Linked DNA regions of Homo sapiens. The protein of the gene in region 1 interacts with the protein of each later gene in a pairwise test. Each region holds a gene or a part of one and is shown in the gene's direction. Other genes may lie near its edges.

Region 1 (7,891 bases):
CTTAGTGGCAAGTGACAGAAACCCACCTTGAACAACTGTGGAAAGAAGGGACTTTTTTGACTTGTAACTGAAAAGTGCAAGGATTGAGGTGGCTTGAAAATGGCTGTATTCAAGTGTTCAAATAAGTCGCCAAGAAATTAAGAAATCATCGCGTTAAGAGCGACAATAGCAGGGAAACAAAAACAGGCTGTTGTGTTAGCCCAGCCAAAAGATGATGGTGAGTGGCAATGGAGATAAAAGGGTGGATTCTAGATCTATGGGGGGTTGGGACTAATCACTTGCTGATGGATTGGAGGGTGGGATGAGGAAGAGAGAAGAATCAAAGGATGACCTCTTGGTTTTGGGGTTGAGCAGCTGGTAATGCAACAATTGGGAAGGTTGGGGGAGGAGCAGGTTTATAGTAGAAAATCAGTAGTTCCATTTTGGCACTCATATCTGCAGGCTTAGGAATCAAACTATCTGGTCCAATTCCAGTCTCTGCCACTTTGTATCTGGGCGGCCTTCTCTGGGCCTCAGTTCTTGTCTGCAAAACAATACTCCTAAGAATTGTTGAGAGGGTTAGATGAGCTAATGCACATAACCCTGGCTTGTGGTAAGCACCTAATAATGTTGGCAATTGTTTGCTATCTGCTGCTAAATACATCTACGTAGTCTGTTGACCTTGATCTTTTTCAAGTTAATCTTACACTGTATCCTTTTGTGATAAATAGATGATAGTCCCATCAAGAAGAAGAAATTCTCACAAAGAAGAAATTTGCCCAAGAAGTAAAGATAAATCCTTCAAAGTTACTGCTTTTCTTTGTACTTGGAGGATTTTTTTTTAAGTGGGGGAGAGTTCATCTTTGTGAAAAGGACACAATAATACACTTGCTCTCTCCCTATGTGTTATACATATTTAATCTTCATTAGACAAAGACTCAAAACGAATAAAGCACTCTGAAAAGTTGCTTAATTGGGACATAGAAATCTCTTACATTTTTTCCAAATCTAAAGGTGTACTAATTTAAAAATTAAAACCCTACTGAGAAGGTGCAGTTAAATAAGAAAATCCTATTTTATCCCTCCATTGTATGAAATTAGGGGTGTTGGTTGGGTGGTGCAAGACCTAGAGATGCCTGTGAGTAGAATCGGCCTCTCCTGAAATGGTCCACTCCACTCAGAAGAGCAGAGTCCTCAGTGGCAGAAATTGGCCCATCTGTCCCCAATTGTGTGGGTAAATGAATTTTGGCAAAGCTGTTGCATTCGGTGGCTGGTATATAGTAAGTACTATGTAAGTGTTTGTTATGTAAGCTAGATGTTTATCTTGAAAAACCTGGTAATACAGTCCCTTTTACTGACAGCTTCAAGATATGTTTCATAACAACAGGGGCCAAAGTAGAACTTCCTGTGGAATAATCTACCCTCCTGACACCACTACCCCTACTCCCGCTAGGCAGAAAACCACATACTGCCAGTATTCTTAGTTAAATGTTCTTTCATAACAGGATATTTCTTTATTTTTACAGCATCTGCAAACATAGAGAATTCTGGGCTTCCACACAACTCCAGTGCTAACTCAACAGGTGAGTTTTAAAAGATTAAAAAAACAAATTTTCATTTGTCTAGGGTACATGAAGTAATAACAGCCAGGGAAGTAGGCATAAGCTGGTTCACTGACCTGTTTTAACCCTGAGTTCTTCACCCATGAATCCCAATAACCTGCCCTAGTGCCCTATAGTAGACATCAGTAAGTGATAGTTCACTGGATTAATCTTCCTCAGTCTTGTAAAGATGTCAATAAATTCTAAAACAAAAAGTGTATCGGAATTTCATGTTATGAATTTTTGAAGCACATTTTTAGATGTGAGGGTTTTGTAGTTTGCCTGTAGATATGAAATGTCAGCACAGAAGTCTGCAGGTCCTATTGATGAAACAAGTCACTGTAAACTAGTCAGCCATGGCAGCCTTAATATACCTCTGCTGACTCTAAGGAGACCCTACTTACATTTCACCCATTAGGCAGACTCAACCCAAACACTTGGTGAGGCCCTTACCCTGTGATTTTAGTTTGGGACAAAGCCTTGGGCCTCTGAGTTCACTAACATGGAAAGATGCAAGAACCAGGCTGATGTCATCAATATCAGTAGTAAATCATCAAGGTACGTTTCTTGTAAACAATTTTTAAGTTATCTTCTCACTGCCCTTAATCTTCACAGTTGACTGAGTTGGAAACTAGAAAAAGGTACACCAATCCTATCACTAACTTGTTTTGTTTACTTTTAGTCAGGGAATATTTATGGACTCTAATGAGCTAGCACATCCTAGGTTCTAAGAATACAAAATGGACCAAGCCTTAACTTCTAGGAGTTTTTGTTCTTTTGTTTTTTATTTTGTGGCAAAATATACATGACATAAAATACATAAGTAACCATTTTTTTAAAGTGTAAAGGTCAGTGGCAGTAAGTACCTTCATGCTGCTTTGCAACTTGCTGGAGTTTTTATTCCTGTGGGGCATCCCAGTGTTTCACTTAGTTTATGTTCTTGGTTTACTGCTGTTCTTTGTTTCATTATCTCTGCCTTTTTGACTGGTGTCTGGTGGTACGTAGTCAGGACATACTTTAATTCTAGTTTTAGTAATTCTACAGAAAACGTTTTCATTGAGAGGAAAAAAAGTCTAGAGGGATTACTCCAAAATGTAATAGTGGTTATCATTGGGTAGTTGTGAGAGGGTCTTAGTTAAAAAATATTTTATTACACTATTAGATAGCTTTTCCTTTTGTCCTTTATTGAATCTAATTCTGCACTACTGAACTTTTAACCTTGGGTAGACAAAGGAGGTAGAAGAAACATAAAGACAGTAATATTAGCAATAGACACCATTTTTGAATGCCTACAACTTATAAGATACTCCTCATACATTTACTAATTTAACAGTGGTGAGGTAGGTGTCATTTCTGGTTTACACATGGGGAAATTGAAACTCAAGAGTGGTTAGGAAATGCCCAAGATCACATGACACTAAGTGTCACATTCAGGATTTGAAACCCAGTTGTATTCTAAAACCTATGTCTCTTTATCACACTGTCTGAAGTGTGGTGTGGCCTTACTTTTAAAACATGCTTTTCACTGTGAATGATTATTAAAAATCAACTGAATACTTTGAGGGCAGCTCCAGAGTCAGTGGGATGATTTCAAATGCCCCTTCTAGCACAGGGAAATTTTTTGAGAAAGAAGAAAAGCATTGCCTCAAATTTTTCTAGAAGGAGAACAGATAATACAACTATTAAAAATGTTTTTGCACAATGTGTTTTACGCCTCATAACTGTCGCATTCCTCTTTGTATCTTGAAAACACTTTTGAAACATGTTAAGTTTGTGTATTTTTATAGGATGGATGCTTAACTGTTTTTCTTTTTAGTTACATAGACCATTGTTGAAGCTTTGTTTCTTTGAACATACTGTTTACCAATTTATTTGGTGCTATTTATTTAGTGCAGTTTCTGTGGCGCCATATTTCCTCTCACTAGGAAAATAGCATCTTTGGCAAATTCCATTATGATGTGTATTCCAGGAATGTACTGTTGGAAAAAGCGGAGACTGCCTGCAGTACTCCTTAGAATGTTGGGTGTCTATCACTTTTATAGGACTCACCACGTTGGAATTTCAGAGAATCTTTTTTTCTCTTGTTTTGGTCTCCAAGTTCCTTGAGAGTGAAATCTATGATTTATTCATCCTAACATCTCACTCTATGCCTGGTGCATAGTAGGTATGCAGGATATGTATGTTTTTGGTTGGTTGAACTCAATTGTGGAGCAACATAGATATTTTGTAATTGCTGACTTGCCTTATCAAAACACTAATATATACATTTTGCAGATGTGTACTGGTTTATGCTCCAATCCTATACATTATTACAGCTGTTTTTCTGTTTATACAGTAATATAGGTACTTGAAGTCAATAGGAATAAAGGTTGCTTTCCAATGTACCACTGAGTTACATGTAACAGTTCTATTTTTTTATGTCCTCTAATCATTATTTGAAGACAGCTGTACTTTTGACATTCTTGTCTGCAGGGACTTGTTTGACACACTTTCAGCTTATATAGAAAATAATTTCCCCTTATTTCATTTGCAGTCAGAGTATTTAGATTCTGTGGATGGATGAATTTACACTTTATAGTGCAAGGAAGACACATGCCCAGATTATTTTTCATAATGGGTTTGAGCAAGGATGTAAGGAAATGTGGCATGGTCTAGATTGGAGTGCACATCTCATCAGTAACTAGAACAGCAGCTCAATATCATTCAGGATACAGCCGTCTCCTTGATCACATAGCATTGATACTTCCCAACAGAGGGATCTGAGAGGATTGGGTTACCATCATCCAATCTGAAGCTCTTTTCTTGGACATAACTTGCACCAACTCCTTTCCAAAGCCGTTTATCTCTTAATCATGTATGTTCCATTTATTACGATTGCCATTAGTTTGGTTATTCATCCTTGGCCTAGTCATTTGGGCCACTCTAGTGAGGTTAGTTTTGTCCATATTCATGGCAGGGATGGGTAGTTGTGAGAGGGTCTTATTTTAAAAATGTTTTATTACACTATTAGGTACCTTTTCCTTTTATTCTTTATTGGATCTAATTCTGCACTACTGAACTTTTAACCACCATTTTGAGCACTTGGACCTGGCTTGCATTTAGATTTCTACAGAAGAAGGCAGTGGAAATTTGGGAACAGCTTATTCTGTATTCCAATTTTTACCCCCGATTGCAACAATGAAAGTCTTACTGAAGTGGAAAGAATTTATCAGGTATATAATCCTGTATGTCACACTACCTTCTTCTGTTTACTTTAGATAAAATGTTTTATGTGTGAAAAGAATATTAGATGGAAACTTTCTGTGAGTTTGTAAGTCAGTCAAAGACAGGAACCAATTGGCCTGACAGGTTGCTTTAGTTGCAAATGGTGATACAGATGAATGATTGATTGACTGATTGATTGATTCACTGATAGATGCAAATGTTGATAGATACAAACAGTGATAGATACACAGAGAGACATAGAGATATCAATACTAGTTTTTAACTAGAGATTGGATGTAGAAAAGAATTTTTCTAACTAAAGAATTCATAGTACACTTAACTGCTTCAACTCCTCAGAAAGTTAATTGTGTTCAACTCATGTTTTTGAGATTGCGTCTGAAAATTGATGGTAATTTTTTTTTATACTTCGAGTTCTAGGGTACATGTGCACAACGTGCAGATTTGTTACGTATGTATACATGTGCCATGTTGGTGTGCTACACCCATTAACGCATCATTTACATTAGGTATTATCTCCTCATGCTATCCCTCCCCCCTTCCCCCCACCCCACGACAGGCCCTGGTGTGTGATGTTCCCTGCCCTGTGTCCAAGTGTTCTCTTTGTTCAGTTCTCACCTATGAGTGAGAACATGCGGTGTTTGGTTTTCTGTCCTTCGGATAGTTTGCTGAGAATGATGGTTTCCAGCTTCATCCACGTCCCTACAAAGGACATGAACTCATCCTTTTTTATGGCTGCATAGTATTCCATGGTGTATATGTGCCACATTTTCTTAATCCAGTCTATCATTGATGGACATTTGGGTTGGTTCCAAGTCTTTGCTATTGTGAATAGTGCTGCAATAAACATGTGTGTGCATGTATCTTTTATTTATTTATTATTATTATACTTTAAGTTCTATGGTACATGTGCACAATGTGCAGGTTTGTTACATATGTATACATATGCCATGTTGGTGTGCTGCACCCGTCAACTCGTCATTTACATTAGATGTGTCTCCTAATGCTGTCCCACCCCACCCCCACCCACGACAGGCCCTGGTGTGTGATGTTCCCCACCCTGTGTTCAAGTGTTCTCATTGTTCAGTTCCCACCTATGAGTGAGAACATACGGTATTTGGTTTCTTCCTTGCCGTAGTTTGCTGAGAATGATGGTTTCCAGCTTCATCCATGTCCCTGCAAAGGACATGAACTCATCCTTTTTTATGGCTGCATAGTATTCCATGATGTGTCTGTGCCATTGTCTTAATCCACTCTATCATTGATGGACATTTGGGTTGCTTCCAAGTCTTTGCTATTGTGAATAGTGCCACAATAAACACACGTGTGCATGTGTCTTTATAGTAGTGTGATTTATAATCCTTTGGGTATATGCCCAGTAATGGGATGGCCGGGTCAAATGGTGTTTCTAGTTCTGGATCCTTGAGGAATCGCCACACTGTCTTCCACAATGGTTGAACTACTTTACCCTCCCACCAACAGCGTAAAAGTGTTCCTATGTCTCCACATCCTCTCCAGCATCTGTTGTTTCCTGACTTTTTAAATGATTGCCATTGTAACTGCTGTGAGATGGTATCTCGTTGTGGTTTTGATTTGCATTTCTCTGATGACCAGTGATGATGAGCATTTTTTCATGTGTCTGTTGGCTACCTAAATGTCTTTTGAGAAGTGTCTGTTCATATCCTTTGCCCACTTTTTCATGGGGTTGTTTGATTTTTTTCTTGTAAATTTGTTTAAGTTCTTTGTAGGTTCTGGATATTAGCCCTTTGTCAGATGGGTAGATTGTAAAAAATTTTCTCCCATTCTGTAGGTTGCTTGTTCACTCTGATGGTAGTTTCTTTTGCCATGCAAAAGCTCTTCAGTTTAATTAGATCCCATTCGTCTATTTTGGCTTTTGTTGGCATTGCTTTTGGTGTTTTAGTCATGAAGTCCTCGCCCATGCCTGTGTCCTGAATGGTATTGCTTAGGTTTTCTTCTAGGGTTTTTATGGTTTTAGGTCTAACATTTAAGTCTTTAATCCATCTCGAATGAAATTTTGTATAATGTATAAGGAAGGGATCCGGTTTCAGCTTTCTACATATGGCTAGCCAGTTTTCCCAGCACCATTTATTAAATAGGGAATCCTTTCCTCATTTCTTGTTTTTGTCAGGTTTGTCAAAGATCAGATGGTTGTAGAAGTGTGGTATTATTTCTGAGGGCTCTGTTCTGTTCCATTGGTCTATATCTCTGTTTGGTACCAGTACAATGCTGTTTTGGTTACTGTAGCCTTGTAGTGTAGTTTGAAATCACGTAGCATGATGCCTCCAGCTTTATTGTTTTGGCTTAGGATTGTCTTGGCAATGTGGGCTATTTTTTTGTTCCATATGAACTTGAAAGTAGTTTTTTCCAATTCTGTGAAGAAAGTCATTGGTAGCTTGATGGGGATGGCATTGAATCTATGAATTACCTTGAGCAGTATGGCCATTTTCACGATATTGATTCTTCCTGTCCATGAGCATGGAATGTTCTTCCATTTGTTTGTGTCCTCTTTTATTTCGTTGAGCAGTGGTTTGTAGTTCTCCTTGAACAGTTCCTTCACATGCCTTGTAAGTTGGATTCCTAGGTATTTTATTCTCTTTGAAACAATTGAGAATGGGAGTTCACTCATGATTTGGCTCTCTGTTTGTCTTTTATTGGTGTATAGGAATGCTTGTGATTTTTGCACATTGATTTTGTATCCTGAGACTTTGCTGAAGTTGCTTATCAGCTTAAGGAGATTTGGGGCTGAGATGATGGGGTTTTCTAAATATACAATCATGTCATCTGCAAACAGGGACAATTTGACTTCCTCTTTTCCTAATTGAATACCCTTTATTTCCTTCTCCTGCCTGATTGCCCTGGCCAGAACTTCCAACAGTGTGTTGAATGGGAGTAGTGAGAGAGGGCATCCCTGTCTTGTGCCAGTTTTCAGAGGGAATGCTTCCAGTTTTTGCCCATTCAGTATGATATTGGCTGTGGGTTTGTCATAAATAGCTCTTATTATTTTGAGATACGTTCCATCAATACCCTGTTTAATGAGAGTTTTTAGCATGAAGGTTGTTGAATTTTGT
Region 2 (7,891 bases), on another chromosome or scaffold:
AGATAGTTGCCCTTAGTTTACGTAATGAATAATAATTAAAATAATCAGTCAAATATTTGAGTACATATTTTGTACCTGAAACTTGATCAAGCATTGTATATTTGACTTCCTGTGAGTGAATGTATGACTTACACGTATAGTTAAATATACATAGCATACAGTTAGAATACAAAATGAATGGCTTAGAGTCTTACTGTAATTTTTTCTTAAGTATAGTGATGTAAAAAGGCTGTGTGACAGATAGGAACTTGAGCTCACTAGTTTTTAAAATGTTTAGTGCTCAATTCTGAAAGATATTGAAATTGTTGGTCTAGAGTAAGGACAAGTATGAGTATTTTGTAAAATCTCTTTAGGTAAATCTGAAGTCCACCTCTGGTTAAGAACCACAGTTGTAGTTTAAAATATTCTTTAAACATAAGAAAAAATTTCATGGTACAACTCTTTCCTTTATTTCATCTGAAAATTAAAGAAAAAATCAAAATTGCTTTCTTCTTCTTTAGATTCCAGGAATATACAATTCACCCTTCAGAAAAGAGCCTGATCCATGGGAGCTGCAATTACAGAAGGCAAAGCCTTTAACACACCGAAGACCTAAAGTTAAGCAGAAGGACTCCACCAGCCTTACTGATTGGCTAGCTTGTACAAGCGCCCGTTCTTTTCCTCGGTCTGAAATTCTACCACCTATTAATAGAAAGCAATGTCAGGTACTAGTTTGCTGTATAAGAATTCTGTCATTAATTTTATTCTTGCTATTTTTTGCACTTTTTATATAACACTATCTTAATTTAACCATTTTTAATTATATAGTTTAGTGGGATTAAGTACATTCATATTTTTGTGCAATCAGCTGTCGCTAGAACTCTTTTCATCTTGGAGAATTAAAACTATACCCACTAAACAACTCTCCATTTCCCTTTGCCCCATCCCCTGACATGACTTGTTTCACTTAGCACGATGTTCTTAAAGTTCATCTATGTTGCAGAATATGTCCGAATTTCCTTCTTTCTTAAGGCTGAATAATATTCTATTTTATGTACATACCACATTTTGTTTATCCATTTATCTGCATTTGGCATTTGAGTTGCGACCACACTTTATGTATTGTGAATAATGCTGCTGTGAACATGGGTGTAAAAGATCTTCTTGAGACTGTTTTCATTTCTTTTAAGAATATACTCAGAAGTGGAATTGCCAGATTATATGGTAATTATATTTTTAATTATTTGAGAAACTGCCATACTGTTTCTCATAGCATCTATACACATTTTCCATTCCCATCAACAGGGCACAAGGGTTCCAATTTCTCCACATTCTTGTTGCAGTTTTGATTTGCATTTTTCTAATTGTTAGCGATGTTGAGAATCTTTTTATGTGCCTATTGGCCATTTGTGTGTCTTCTTTGAAGAAATGTCTATTCTAAGTCCTTTGCCCATTTTTGAATTGGGCTGTTTTTTGATGTTGAGTTTTAGGAGTTCTCTATATATTCTGGGTATTCATGCCTTATCAGATACATGGTTTGCAAATATTTTCTCCCATTCTATGGGCTCCTTCTCTACTCTGTTACAGTGTCTTGCTTTTTAAAAATACAGGGCTGGGCACAGTGGTTCACGCCTGTAATTCCAGCACTTTGGGAGGCCAAGGCGGACAGATCACAAGGTCAAGAGATCAAGACCATCCTGGACAACATGGTGAAACCCCATCTCTACTAAAAATACAAAAATTAGCTGGACATGGTGGTGCACCCTGTGGTCCCAGCTACTCGGGAGGCTGAGGCAGGAGAATCACTTGAACTCGGGAGGCGGAGGTTGCAGTGAGCCGAGATCGTGCCACTGCCCTCCAGCCTGGCGACCGATCTATATATATATATATAGAGAGAGTCTATAATCTATCTATCTATCTATATATATATAGATTATTGTTTTGTTCCATTTTTTTGACCAGAGGAAAATTATTTTTTGCAACTCTAATTTTAAATAATAAACATAAAGTAATTTACAAATATATACCAAAGAAGTGAACAAACACTTCTTTGGCATTAAATCTTGTTATATTGAATAAGAAGTTAAAACATGGATTATTTCCTAGAATCTAGATTTTTTATGTAAAAATATTGTTATACCACTACTTGTTATAACCTGTTGTTGCTGGGAATACATGTATTATCAATTTTATTGAATTTAACCTCTCATTTGATGCTATATGTCTTTATATGCCATTTTAAACAAAACTTGGGTTTGAGTAATTTTACAAATGTAAATTTGAGAATTTGAGACAGCTCAAAACAAAGCAATACTCATAGTAGAGATGGGAAATCTTCCCTATAACTAGATTGTAGTACAACAGGTTTGGCAAATGACTTCCTGAGGCTAAAGGGTAGAGTGGGGTGGGGTGAATGATGATTGTCACCATCCTAAAAGTCCCGGAGAGCCACAGGTCTATCATCCCAATCAATAATTAAGCTGCCACCATGTAGTATCAACTACCTTGTGTTAGATTTGGCTCACACAATTAAACTCCCAGAACTCCTGACCATTAACTCCCTGAATAGGCGTGCCCTTGTGTATCTATATTGCTGTATAATAAATTACTCCAAAATCTAATGGGTTAAACCAACATACATTTGTTACTTCACAGTTTCTATGGGTTTGCCATTCTAGGTACAGCCTTTGGTGAGTTCCTCTTACTCAAGTTCTCTCATGATGTTGTAGTCCAGATGTCAGCCAGGTGAGGCACAGTGGCTCATGCCTATAATCCCAGCACTTTGGGAGGGTGAGGTGGGAGGATCACTTGAGCCCAGGAGTTCACAACCAGCCTGGGCAACATAGCGAGAGCCTGTCTCTATTAAAAAAAAAAAAAAAAAAAAGATGTCAACCATGACCGTGATCTCATATGAAGGCTCAGACGGAGGGTGGGGATAGGAGGGCAGTGAGATCCTCTTGGTTGGTTCCCTCACTCACATGGTTGGGTGTTGTCATGCCTCAGCCCCTCCTCACATTGGCATCTTCACAGAGCTGCCTCACAACATGGTAACTCATTTCCCTCTGGGTGAGTGATCCTAGGGAGAGAGAGAGACAGCTTTCAAAACAGAAGCCACAGGCTTATAAAACTAATGCTAGAAGTGACATCCCATCACTTCTGCCATGTTCGAAATGAGTAAGTCTATTTTATATTCAAGGGCAAAAGACTACCCGACGGTGTGGATACCAGGAGGCAGGGGCCCTTGGGAGTCATCCTAGAGCCTGCCTTTTATACCCTCAACCATTGAATCATCCTTGCAATAAGACAGCCCTGCATTCTATTTCATTAAAAATCTCCCACTTTACTGTAATTATTTGTGATATATGTTGTGTTTCCATTCTCTATAATTACGTCCTTAATTCCCATTATTTGTATCTTTTTTTTTACTCTCTCAAAACTACTAACTGATAATTAATACTATTAACTGATGGTTTATACTGTCTTAGAGAAAGAGCTATAAAATATAATTGAAAATCTATAGTCAGTTTCCCCCTTGGACCGCTTTCTCCTTTTCTTCATCTCTGATTCAGTTCCTGTGATATTCTATTTATATCCGTATTCTTTTTTTGAGATGGTGTCTCGCTGTGTTGCCCATGCTGGAGTGCAGTGGAGGGATCTCAGCACACTACCACTTCTGCCTCCCTGGTTCAAGCGATTCTCCTGCCTCAGCCTCCCAAGTAGCTGGTATTACAGGCACCTGCCACCATGCCCTGCTAAGTTTTGTATTTTTAGTAGATATAGGGTTTCACCATGTTGGCCAGGCCGGTCTCCAACTCCTGACCTCAGGTGATCTGCCTGTCTCGGCCTCCTAAAGTGCTGGGATTACAGGAATAAGCCATCACGCCAGGCCCATGTATCAGCATTCTCAATTACCTAGTAAACTAATCCATTTATCTGAATCTGATCATTCGTTCCTTTACTAAACTGGAGTGACAAGCATAGTGGAGTGAGCAAGGGGACAAAAGAGAGATAGTAGGAAAATTTTCAGTTTTTTAGGGGGATATGTCTTCAGAGTATGGTTTCATTATTCCTTTTTAAATAAGAGTTATATCAATATTCTAGTGAAAGCATTTAAAATAGTTTTAAATGTAAATATAAAATGAATTTTATATTATGAATAATTGAATTTTTGCTATTTTGAATTATGTACATTACTATTTTTCTATTAGTGTAAGTAATCATCACATTGCATATATAACATATAACTTTGCATCAACAAGCAATTAAATTTATTAATTATTCTATCAAGAAAATAATAACTCCAGCATTTCCACTGCATGTATATTAAGTGTTCAGTGTGTTAAATGTATTAACTACTCAAAAGCAGTTAAGGTAGATGTAACATTGCATATTTAAATTTTTAATAATCCACACTGCTGGTGGGCGCGGTGGCTCACACCTGTAATCCCAGCACTTTGGGTGGATTACAGGCTGGAGTGGGTGGATCACCTACGAGGTCAGGAGTTCGAGACCAGACTGGCCAACATGGTGAAACCCTGCCTCTACTAAAAATACAAAAATTAGCCGGGCATGGTGGCACATGCCTGTAATCCCAGCTATTTGGGAGGCTGAGGCAGGAGAATCGCTTGAACCTGGGAGGTGGAGGTTGCAGTGAGCCGAGATCACACCATTGCACTCCAGCCTGGGTGAGAGAGCAAGACTCCATCCCAAAAAATAATAATAATAATAAACCACGTTGCATGCTATATTCATTTGTATAGCTATTGGTACTACATGGAATTCATAGAGTAATTTTGCATACAACTTTTTAGGAAATGTGAAAATTACATGGCATGAATAAAATAAGGGCATGTAAATATTTCTGAGCTGGAAACACCATGAAGGTCATCTGAACCAAACTACCACACTATACAATATTCACAACATTAACCATTAAACATGTAATATTATGGTATAGGTGTTTTATAATGTTATTACATTTGCTTTATTGCCCTGCTTTTAATATACTTTTAATGATGTGTCTTCTTCTACACTTGTCAGTGTTCATTCTTCATCTCTGTTTCTCAATACAACCTCTGTACAACCATCTTCATTCCCTACATGGCTTTCTTCCTCCATACCATTCTATGTACACATATACCTATATACATAAGTGTATTTAGTATGTATGGAATGCATAGGCAGAAGGTACATATATAGAAATAATGTATGGATGATGTATAGGTATATGGAAAATATATATGTATAAATGGTATATCAGCCCATATGGAAGATATATATATATATGGTATAAGTATAAAAATAGAAAAATACACACATTTGTAAAACAACTTGTGTGTGTGTGTGTGTGTGTGTGTGTGTCTGTGTATGGAGAGAGAGAAATATTTATGTTTATATAGAGAATATATAAACACATGGCAGAATTAAAAAATATGTATTTATATATGTATATATGTATACTTACATATATATACACACATATACTCCTGAATTACATTTATCTAGCATGCTACAAAATAATGATCCCTACTAATCTATTCTCTTTTCTTCGTTCTCTCTTTTTTATTCTCTTCTCTTCTATTATTTATTTTCTCTTTCAGTGTTTTTTCTTTCCTTCTTCTTCTGTCTCCTTCCTTCCCTATTTTAAACTCCTCCTCCTTTTCCTCTGGCCATGTCATCCCCACTGCCCTATTCTTCATTCTCTTGTTTCCTTCCTTCTCAGTCTTCCTTCTGTCATCTTTTCTTAACACCTTCTCCTCTCTTTACTTCCTTTGCCTCTTTTCTTCACCATTCTTCTTTTTTCTTTTCTCTTTCCCTTCTTCCTTTTTTTTTCCCAAAATGGGATTGTTTTACATTTTGTTTTGTTTGTTTGTTTTTTCTGAGCCATATTCCTGTGTGTTACCAATAATAAAAAAGTATATACCTCATTGGTGACATTTAAGATTATGCCCAAATGATAATATTTGTACTCTAATCAGAGTAGCTTTACTTGCCAGGTGAATTTTTTAAACATCTAGGACAATTTTATGGTTTTAATAATGGCTTAAACATATAAAATGACTATAAATAACATGAATTATGGAAAATACAGCAGAACATAAATATATTTGACTCTCCTAACCAGGGCTTAGGTGGAGGCAATGTAAACTAAACATTAAAAAACCATAGCTAAGAGTCCAGAAATACCTGTAGTGTCAAGTTAAGTCTTGGATGATCTAGGTATTCTAGGGATTAATTGGAAATAAGTACAATCAGCAGATCTAAAGTTTGATAGGTGAAAGATACACATAGATATATAGATATATAAATATAGATATATATTTACAAAACCTGGGTTCCCATGTCACTCTAGGCATGACTGGGATAGATGATTGCCTGATATCCAAAAAAGGCAGTTTTTCAAAAGAAATATAAATCAACAAAAATTTGACGTAAGAGAAACTTGATAGCTGGTGTCAAGTTCACTAACCAAGGAGCTGGAAGACTATTGAGCTCAAAGACAAGATGCTAATTGTCTGAGGTATAAATGTATGTACCAGGCATTGCAAAGACATAGGGGCATGGACATGACTGCACAAAAGTCAGGGATCATGAAGGTGGGAGTGAACCCAAAAGGAAGACTGAGTTTACTTTCATTCTAATCCTAAGCAGGGCTTCTTCTCTTTCATTTTGTAGTCTCATTGGAACTAATAAGTTCCAGAACAACAGTAGAGTAAGCCTACAAGTAGATATGTGTTATGTTTGCTTATCAACAAAGGTTAGAAGGCATAACATGGCCACCAAGAAGACCATTGCTCCATGTGAATGCTGGTCTCTTCAAAGTCATAGCCTTGGGCCATTGTGTATTTCTTTGATGCTACTATTGCTCAAAACCTTTTAAAAACTCTTCTTGAAACTAATAATTATGATGGTAATAACAATAACAATGTAGTGGGAACCATTTTGAGTGTTTACTGTGTTCTAGGTACATGGTAAGGGTGTCACATTATCGTACACATCTTAAGAGAAATTCTGTGATGTAGTTATTCCATTTTACAAATGATGAACATCGGCATAGAGAAATACTTTGCTCCTTGTCATAAAACCAAATATTAATTTTTTAAGTCATAGACTCTGTCAAAGTATAAGAATAAGAATAAGAAAAAAAAAAGAAGTCCCATTTGATTTCTTAATAGTGGACTTGGAATCATGTTACTGTATCTTTAAAAAGTAAAATTCCAATAGAAATCCATTAACTACTTTCAAATATAGCAATCCTCCTGTCCAGCTGTGAAAAGTACTAGATGATACTTATTTGCCATTTGTGTTATTTACGGTCCATGACTTTTATGGTAACTGGTTCCTATTATTGGTTTCTATTAATGTAAAGCATAAGTGAACATAAATGAGGCGTGAATCATTTCTTTTTATTAGCCCCACAGTCTTCACTCAGTGCTTGCAGTAACTCCAGCTGTGTCTTGTTAGTGATAACCTATTTAAAGAAGATATTTTTAAGAATAAGGAATATGATTAGAAATCTTTGTCCATTTAATATTACTTCTCTCCTATACGACAGTGATGAAAAAAACCAATATGCAATTAATGGCACAGCAAAATCTTGAGCTGCCTTTGATTTGTATTGTGCCTAATACGATACTAATTAGACAACCAGTGGATTTTAGTAACTAGTATAAATAACAACTAACTTGAAAGCAGGATATGTTGTAAGTTACTTTTCACAGTGCAGCTGTGGACTTTCCTCTGCTAAGTATTTGTGTCATCAAAAGGTTGCTATTGGTATCAGAGTAATTGAACAATAGAGTTTAGAATTTTAAATAAATAACATTTAAAATAAATAAAAGTTATGGTTCTTCTGTGTTTAGGAGGCTGCCTATTAAGTGTGACATTTGAAATTCACCAAAAAATTTTAACT

What was found.
Region 2: the proteins of TMEM123 (region 1) and SPATA17 interact in binary tests that used the Homo sapiens proteins (3 or more experiments, as listed by UniProt).

Annotation. Positions count from the first base shown.
Region 1 is NC_000011.10:102,442,483-102,450,373, reverse strand, and holds part of TMEM123 (porimin precursor), read left to right. Parts: intron 1-1,505; coding exon 1,506-1,562; intron 1,563-7,891. UniProt on the Homo sapiens protein: Implicated in oncotic cell death, characterized by cell swelling, organelle swelling, vacuolization and increased membrane permeability.
Region 2 is NC_000001.11:217,773,834-217,781,724, forward strand, and holds part of SPATA17 (spermatogenesis-associated protein 17), read left to right. Parts: intron 1-500; coding exon 501-704; intron 705-7,364; exon of another isoform or gene 7,365-7,450; intron 7,451-7,891.